2 separate regions of the Homo sapiens genome follow, and region 2 is linked to region 1. Evidence: fine-mapped expression QTL. A gene starts in region 1. The other region holds a variant in brackets. All regions are shown on one strand. Distances are from middle to middle.

What was found. PIP is the estimated chance that this variant, and not a neighbour inherited with it, causes the effect.
Region 2: its variant is the best candidate, but not a certain one, in a credible set for the expression of EGFL7 in whole blood (TOPMed, PIP 0.90).

What each region holds. Positions count from the first base shown.
Region 1 is chr9:136,661,104-136,665,474 of GRCh38, reverse strand. EGFL7 (EGF like domain multiple 7) reads right to left here and starts at 2,559. Exons shown (of 11, transcript NM_016215.5): 1 at 2,367-2,559; 2 at 1,852-2,067; 3 at 690-783.
Region 2 is chr9:136,836,090-136,840,460 of GRCh38, reverse strand. RABL6 (RAB, member RAS oncogene family like 6) reads right to left here. Exons shown (of 15, transcript NM_024718.5): 9 at 2,799-3,115; 10 at 2,446-2,599; 11 at 1,340-1,552; 12 at 975-1,239; 13 at 596-767; 14 at 249-307; 15 at 1-139. Among named protein-coding and RNA genes, the nearest start is that of AJM1, 4.2 kb to the left of the region's middle. RefSeq lists an enhancer at 1,264-2,145. The variant G/A (reference allele first, on the strand shown) is at 2,261.

The DNA of each region.
Region 1 (4,371 bases):
GCCCAGGGCGCCCACACTGACGGGGCTGCGGGCCCTTTGCTAGCTTTCAAGCCCCCCAGGCTGAAAACCACCCCGGGACGCCCATCTCAGCCGCTGGGGGGCCGCGCGGTAGGCGCCCGGCGCAGGTTAGCACTGAGCTGGGTCCTGCAGCCTCGCAGGCAGTGGGCATCATGACCGTCCCCACCGCAGGCCCAGAGACCCAGATCTCCTCTGAGACCACATGGCAGAGCCCAGGCCTGCCTCCTAGCCTTAGCGTGTTAGGTTGGGGGCCCCTGCGCCGGCCCCCACCTGGCCCTCTCTCAGGCATCAGGCACCCTCACCGGGGTCACTGGGTCACTGCTGAGTTCAGCACAGTCAGGGCCATCGCAGAACACTCCTCCCAGCGAATCCACAGGCCCCCAGAGAGTCTCCTCACACCAGAGGTCCCTGGGCTGGTCACCTCTCTTCTCCAGGCCTCCATTTCCAAATTTATAAGATGGGGCTAAACAGCCCTGGGATCTAGTGACGGTGAGGTCGTGGCCACACAACAATTGTTACAGCTGTTACTGCGGGCGCGGCACGTGGGGCTCGGGCCAGCCCAATTCAGCAGCCCCTCAGACCCCAGCCGGAGCCAGCGCCCTGTGTCATAACCCGCGTGGGCGCCGGTGTGAGAAGTGTTCCCTCGGAGCAAGGGGTTTGCTGGGACTCACCTGGCGGAGGAGAATCAGTCATCCCCCGGACAGGGGCAGGAGCTGCTCCTCCGGGTGGTGGGGGCCACCTGTGCCTCCCCGGTCCTGGGGGCTGCTGGTTGGAGAGGAGTTGTGGGTTAGTGCCTATGCACAGTCCTGGTCACCCTGATGTCTGGGGGCTGGGAAGGGGCCCGGGACCAGCTTTCGGTGCTGCTGTGGGACCTCCGCCTGCACTAGGCCTACAGGCCCCTGTCCTGCACCTACCCCGACCCCATCCTGTCCTGAGCTGATTGTCCTCTCGGATCCGCAGCCCCTGGCCTCAGTAAAATGGGGTTATTGCCTCCAGCCCTGGACTCCCTGGCATGGGGATGGGAGGCTGCTGTGAGTGGAGCTGGAGGTCTCTCCATGTAACCCAGGGTGCTGGGCAAGGGGCCTGCAGATGGGTCCGAGAGGGCCACCAGCTTGGTCCTACCTTGGTGCATGGGAGCTGGAGGAAGGGAGGGGCCCAGGTCCCTGGAGAGGAGTCCCCAAAATGAGGCCGCCCCACCCTGCAATCCAGTGGCCACTGCTCTGGACCAGGGGCCCTGGAAGCCCCTGGCACGTGGTCCAAGGGACGACCAGAGCAGCTGCTGTCAGGGGGCGTTCCTCATCTGACTGGGGAGTCCTAGGCCTCCTGGCGCCCTGAGCCCACGCAGGGCAGCTCTTACCTAGCCCCCAGCAGTGAAGTGTTCAGAGTGGGGCCTAGGGGGCCTCTGGGTGGGAGAGCCACCGCCACCCTCCCTGTCCCCTGCCCCTGGCCTCATCTCTGGATCTGCGGTCACTTAACCCTTTGACCTGCCTCCCCACCTCTCCTGCCTGAGTCTGGAAGAGGCGATGGAGCAGAAAGGGCAGCTCCAGGGCTGCCCCGACTCAGCCCTCGCTGCCCCCATCCTGGCTAGGCACCATTTGGAAAGTGGGGGTTCTCAGACAGGCTTCTTGGTGTGGACGTATGAGACAAAAAGTGGGGCCTTCTAGGACCCACTGTGGTTTTGGGGGCTTTGGGATGGGGCTTCAGCCACTCTGCATGAGGCTGGGGAGAGGGAGAACAAGGGCGTCTCCAGGGTCCAAGGGGGGCCCACAGAGTCACCCATTTGCCCACCGCACCCAGCAAGTCATCCCTAAGCCCGAGCCCCACGTCCCGCACCCTGGATTCACACTGCTCATCCTGGCTACAGATGTGGCTTTGGGGTTCCTCTCCCTCGGGGCCAGTTCCCCTCCCCGGGCCCCCGTTGGGTTGCTCATCCACTGCTAGGGAGAAGATGAGGAGACCTCAGCCCTCGGGACACCGCAGGGCGTAGCGCGAAGCCCCTCACAGCGGGCCCAGCCAAGCTGAACTTTGCTGCCAACCACAGGGGCTGCTCTGCGGAGGGAGAGAAAGGCCAGAGGGTGGGGTTCAGGGGAAGGGCGACTGGGGGTGAAGTGTTGGAGTCAGCAGACTGGATTGGGATCTACGCTGGGCCACCCACTAGCAGGCGTTTGGCCAAGGGGCCTCAGTGGCCTCCTCTGTGCAGAAGGGGAGGAGACTGGGACCCCTCCCCTGTGACCTCGCTGGGGAGCAGATTGCGGAGCAGCCAGCAGGCGCCACGGTCAGCGGGAGTGAGGGGAATGGGGGGCCCGCCCTGTCCGCTCCCTGCCCCTCCGAGGCCACCCCTGCCATACCTGATGCTGCTGGAGCCCAGGCGTGGCCATGGTGGCCGCTGCTGTGTCCTGGGACTGGAGATGGACCCTAGCCCTTGCTGGGGCCTCAGGCCCACTGGCCGCCTGGAGGCACCTCCTGAGGCCCACCTGCCTGGCCTGTCCACAGGAGCCTCCCTTGCAGCCGTGCAGGGCCAGCTTGGTGCAGGGAGGCTCCCCCCGGGCGAGGAAGGGCGGCTTTTTATGCTCCGTCCTGGGTAATCGGGATTGGGATGGGCCCTTCCCAGCCGGACTTCCTGTGTGTGTTCTCCGCTGATAACGGGGACGTGTCGTCGGACAAACAGGAGGCTGAGGGGGGTGGGGGCCACCGTGTGAGGGGGCCTGGACAAACTGCCCAGGGGTGGGGAAGCCGTCCCCTGGGCCATCAGAGTCTAGCCCCAAAACAGCCAGAAACCAGGGCTGGACCCTGCTGGAGACCCTGGGGAGAGTGTGGGGTGGAGGACGCAAGCCCAGGGCCCTCCCAGGACCGTGGGTTCACAGGCCATGCTCACGTGTGGCTGGACAGAAGGGAGCTGCTGCATCTTTGGGCCAAGGATGCTGGGCCCTCCCCCAGGACACCCCCAGATGTGTGTGACACAGCACGGGAGCTTGGAGGGGCCCCAGGCCAAGGCAGGGACCAGCCACACAGGAGCCTTGACCAGTGAGGGATGGCGAGTGGCGAGGCCCGGCAGGAAGGGACTGGGGTGGCAAGACAGGCTGAGCGGTCCGAGAACAGCCTGTTCCGTGGGTCCCTGAGGCCCATGGTGAGGGGGTGACGGGAGGGGACAAGCATGGAGTCCAAGCTCTCTCCCCTAAAAGAGCTGCCAGTGAGGCTGTGAGCCCCTGCCCTGGAGATGGGCAAGCAGGCCCAATGCCCTCAGCCCCACTTCACAGGGGTGCTCTGGGCTGGCAGCAGGCTGCGGCCGGGGGTGTGGGGAGGGATGCGGGACACTGTGGGTGATCACAGGGGGTGCTCTGTCAGATTCCCGGCGTCCCAGCCTCCAGGTCTGACCCTCATCTTCCCTGTTCACACGGCAGTGGGAGCCTCAGGCCGAGCGAGCCACTGTGGCAAAGGTGGGCTGGGTGGGAGGGGACACGGTGCCGAAGGGAGCTGGGTGGCTTTGGAGGGCACGCCTGGAACCCCAGGAGAGCAGGGCCTCTCCCAACCCCGCTGTCCGTGGGGTGTGAGCCCTGCTTTGGGGTCAGCCCCTGTCGGCCTGATGCCTGGGACACCCCCATTTCCCTGGCCCTGGGCGGTCAGTGTGCCCCCACCTCTCCAGCCCCACTCAGCTGGGCAACTTGAGCCAAGGGAGGCTGGGGCAGCTGGGGAAATTCCCCACGGGACTTTGGAGGGCAGGTGGAAACCTCACCCACACGCGATGCGCCTCCCCCTCAAGCAGGAACCAGCTCCCCTCTACCCACGGCCAGGGGAAGGGTCTGCTCTGGGCGCCAGGCTGTGGTCAGGGCTCAGGGCCTCAGCCAGGCAGGACCTCACTCTTCTCCGGGCCTGTTTCTGCACCTGCTTCATGGTCACTGAGCTGGTTTAAGGGGGCGCTCCTGGCACCCAGGCACCGCTGGTCTGAGCGGGAGGGGCCTCTTTCCAGAGGTGGCCCCTGCCCTGAGGTTGGAGCAGATAGGCAGAACCCCATTTCCCCACCTCCTCCACACTAGGCCACCCTGGGATCTGGCCCTTACCCTACTGGCTGCACCCTCAGCCGCCCTGTGCCTCCCTCGGCCCCCTGGCTCTCCCACCCAGGGGCTCATCCTGCCCTGGCCAGCCTGTCCCTCCAGCTGTCAGGAGGGGGTTGCAGTGAAGAACAAGTTGGCAGCAGGCCGGGCCCAGTCCCCCAGGCTGTCACCCAGGAGTCCAGTGCCAGGAGGACAGCCTGGGGAGGACCCAGACTCTGCCCTCGCCCCTGGCTGTAAGCACAGCAGTCAGTTCACCGGGAAGGCCCCCAGCGGGCCAAGCCTTAGCAACTCGTGCACTCGG
Region 2 (4,371 bases), 170 kb before region 1:
AAGCCTCCAGCTCATCGGCAGCCGTCCTCTCCCTGCTGCGCGGGGGCCGCTGCTGCCGCCGTCGCCGCTCCTCCTTGCCCTCCTCCTTGTCCTTGCTCTTCTTGTGTTTGCTCTTCTTCTTGGCAGCTTTTTCTTCTTCCTGAGGAGCACAAGGATGGGGCGCCATGGAGTCACAGGAAGCCACAGCCCTGGTCCCAGGACCGCATGCCACCCAGTCCTGGCCTGCCAGGAAGGGGAGTAGCCAGTACCTCTTTGCCTTTTTTCTTCTTCTTCTTCTTCTCCTTAGAGGGGGTTTTGCCCTCCTTACCTGCACAGACAGGACAGACAGTGGCTCAAACTCAGGCCAACGGGGACCCCAAGCTGGGTGACAGGACTTCTCTAGAAACTCACAAAGCAGCGAGCCCCAGCCCTCCAGGAGGCCCTGCTGATGGACAGGACCACACTGCAAACATCAGCTCCTGCAGGGGGCTGCCAGGAGCATGGCACAGCATCCTGGACTCAGGAGAGGACCCCGGCCAGCGGCCAGCAGCTGGGAGGAGGCCCACGTTCTACCCAAACTCCAGCAGGCTGACCGCACTCTGGTGCCCCCACCCACCTTCCTCACTGCTCTCCTTGGGTCCGGCCTCCTCCAGCCCCAGCCCGAAGAGGTCCGAGTCATTCTTCAGTCTGAAGGCGGGGAGAGGGAGCTTGGGGGGTGGGGGCGGCTCGGCAGGGCCCTCATCCTCGTCAGTCACATCGGAGGGGTCATCTCGCACGGGAAAGTCATCCTGGAGCAGGGAGAGCAACTGGTCAGGCCATCATCCCTCCCACACCCCCAGGGGTTGTGGGATCTCAAACCAGGCCGGCAAGGCCCAAGTGTGGGGACATGAGATGCCTCTTCCAGAAGCCTCCTCCCACTGCACCCACCCAGATCAGGCCTGTGGGAGGGACCCTGGCCACCTGGCTGACCTCTGCCCCGGGAGGACTCGTCTTACCGCCCTGCGCTGTGTGTCTGATCCCTCGCTCTCAAAGTCGGGGTCATCCATGACGAAGGACAGCATTTGTGCAGCAATGGGTCCCTCGGGGTCACTCTCCGACGAGGAGGCCTGCTCACCCTTCCCCGGCTCCATCTCAGCAGGGGGCCTGGTGCTGCTGCGCTTCTCCGGACCTGTGCGAACAGAGACACCGCCTGGCCAGGGGGGTGCTGCGGTCCTCGTGGGAGCTGTCCCCCTCCGTGGCTTCGAAGCTGGTATGGAGGACCTTTGTGGACAAGCAGAGGGTCAGTCAGGGTCCTCTGGAGGCGTCCTGAACTGCCCCACCCGGGTCTCCAGGCCGCACCCGTGGGGACACCTGCCCTTACCACTTGGTCTCTGGCTCTGAGCACTGCTGGGGAGCTGGGGCAGGGCCTTTTGTGGGAGCTGCCACTTCTGCTTCCTCCTCACTCGAAAGAGTGATGTCTTGACTGGGGACGGGGCCTGCAGGCAGCGGGGGACTCCCACGTGGCTGGTCTTCGAGGTCCACATCGTCCTGGAACCCTGCCACCATCGGGTTGCCGCCCAGGGCCTCCCCATCACTGCAAAGCAGGGGGCAAAGCGGTCAAGGGCCACGGGGTAGGGATGGCTGGCCGGGCTCACGGGCCTTGGTTCTAGGCGCCCTGGTACCCAGCACACCCTGGCCGTGGGGCCACCCCACCCCAGGTGCTGTGTTGTGGAGAGGCCCCCTCATGGTCACAGGGCTTCTGAGCAGGAAGGGGTCGGGGGCACAAGGTTGGACACAGTGCTGCCCTGCGGCCGCTCAGTGGGTGAAGGATGTGGAGCCGCACAAGTGGGCGCTCGTGGAGGAGGCGGGCCCAGCTCAGGGCCACGGGGCTTTCTGTCCTTTGTGTATTTCTGGAGGAAGCCGCTGCCCCACAGCAATGGGTGAGGCTGAGGTGCTGAGGCCACTGTGGGTGGAGCTTGTCCAGGGCTGTCCTGGGACCAAATGCAGGGCTTTGCTGCAGGCAAAATTTGGGGCAGCTTGGCAGACAGAGTGGTGGGAGGGGCTGGCAGATGGCTGGGGAGGCGGCTCTAGCTCCCAGCTCTAGGACCTGCAGGAAGCCGCCCCTGTCTCTGCAGCACCTGGATCCTGGCCCTGTGGAGACCACATCTGGTGGCCTGAACCTCCCATATGACCTGCAGTGGCCTCTCCAATGGCTTCCATGTGGCATCTGCCCACAGAAGACCCCAAGGTGCCCCTGTCCTCTCCAGGGTGTGGGCAGAGCAGGTGGCCAGGCCTTTCTGAT[G/A]TCTGGAAGCCCCGTCCAAGCCCTTCCCTCGTCTGCTCCAGCCACAGAGCTGCTCTGTCCTCAGCCAACAGTGACCAGCCGGCGGGGGGCCCCTTCTGCGCCCCTAGAAAGCCAGCCCCACCTGCTGCTCGGGCACCCTGGAGGCTGGGGGGCAATGGGAGAGGAGGCCCAGGCCCACCCCTCACCTGTCGCTGTCCTGCTGGGCAGCCTTGGCCCCCACCTTCTTCTCGTCCCTGGCGGGGGTTGTGTCTTCCAGGAAGCTGCGGTCCAGGCGGTCGTCAGGAACAAAGTCCTCCACACTCTGGACCGTTGCTGGGCCCTCTGCGGCCGGGACTGGCTCTGTGAACAGTGATGCCGGGTCCTCTTCACTCGGCACCAGAACCCTCACTGCACCCAACCCCAAGCCAGGCCCACCCGGGATGTGCCCACGGGACTGGGACAAGCAGGAAGAAGCGTGGAGCGCTCCGAAATCCAGGACCCCACCTGTGAGGGCCTGGGGGTCTGGGACCAGTTTGGGAGGGGCAGCTCCAGGGCCTACCTGGAGGTGGAGGGGCTGCCTCGGTGGCAGGTGACGTCCCAAACAGCCTAGAGATGATGCTGCGCCGTGGGGCGGGGGCTGAGGGGCACGCAGGTGGGGGCAGGGCCTCTGAGGGTGGTACAGGGGGCACAGAGGATGGTGGGGCGGCATTGAGGGGCAGCTGTGGGGCGGGCTGGGGTGTGCCGGGGCTGGAGCTCCCCGTGGACACAGCGCCTGCAGGCACCACTGGTGACTGGGAGCCCGGGGATGGGCTCTGCCCGTTGGCCGCCAGTGGGGACGCATGGCCACGGCTGCGAGCCTCCATCATCTCCAGGAAGCTGAAAGGCAGAAGGCGGGTGAGAAGCCTGGCTCCCCTGCCTCTCCCTGAGGCCCTCAGGTGACAGGGGGCTCTCTGCTGCTGCTGCTGGGGCTGGGAAGAGCCACTGTGTTCTGGGCCACCCGCCCCACAGAGGCCATCATCCCCATCCACTTCCAAGGGCAGCAGTGCCAGCCAGGCACGGTGGCTCATGCCTGTAATCCCAGCACTGTAGGAGGCCAAGGCAGGCAGATCACGAGGTCAGGAGGTGGAGACCGTCCTGGCTAACGCAGTGAAACCCCGTCTCTACTAAAAATACAAAAAAAATTAGCCGGGTGTGGTGGCGGGTGCCTGTAGCCCCAGCTACTTGGGAGGCTGAGGCAGGAGAATGGCGTGAACCCGGGAGGCGGAGCTTGCGGTGAGCCGAGATCACACCACTGCGCTCCAGCCTGGGCGACAGAGCGAGACTCCATCTCAGAAAAAGAAAGAGCAGCAGTGCCAAAGGGTGGGGACAGCAGGCACCAGCGTACATGTGTCCAGCTCCCCTGAAAGTCACTTCGGATCTGTTCTGAGGCACAGCTGTTGGGGGCTCCATGCAGAGGTGGCCAGATGGCAGCAACTGGACCTTCCCGTGAGCGGGGGTTTCTGGGAAGAGGAGGGGGCTGGGGCTTGGTGGAGCACGTGCGGCCATCGCAGCATCCAGCTGACCCAACTCTCAGGCCCAGGAAATGCCAGGATTGGTTCAACAGAGAAGCGCCCATGCGGGGGGCTCCATTCTGGGGCTGGCCTGGCAGCTGGAAGCCACGGGTCCCTCTCCAGGCATCAAACTGCCTTCCCTCTCGGTCTCTTGCTGTGTCTGAGCCAACAGCCAGATCCAAGGTGACCCACAGGGCTCTCCTTCTGGAAACAGAGACCTCCTGGGGGGCCTCAGGAGGGCCACTGATTCCGTGGTCCCTGCCTGGGTCCCAGGGGAGGCACCAAGCCCCTAGCTGTACAGGAGCCTGAGGCAGAGAACGGGCCAGCTGTCCCACTGGCCGCAACCCCGGGGCTATGCACTGCCCAGGCCCACTCAGGAGGATGCTCTGAGCCGCCCTCTGCTATCGAGGACCAGAGACCTCCATGTCCTGGCCTGTATGCCTCTTCAACACAGGGAGCTTCCCAAAGTCAAGCAGCTCCCCAGAAAGCACACCCCATGCTGGCATCAATCTGGGAGGCCAAGCCCCTGATGGGCAGGCAGCCCCAGCAGCACTCCATGAGCACCAGCACCTGGCCACGGTC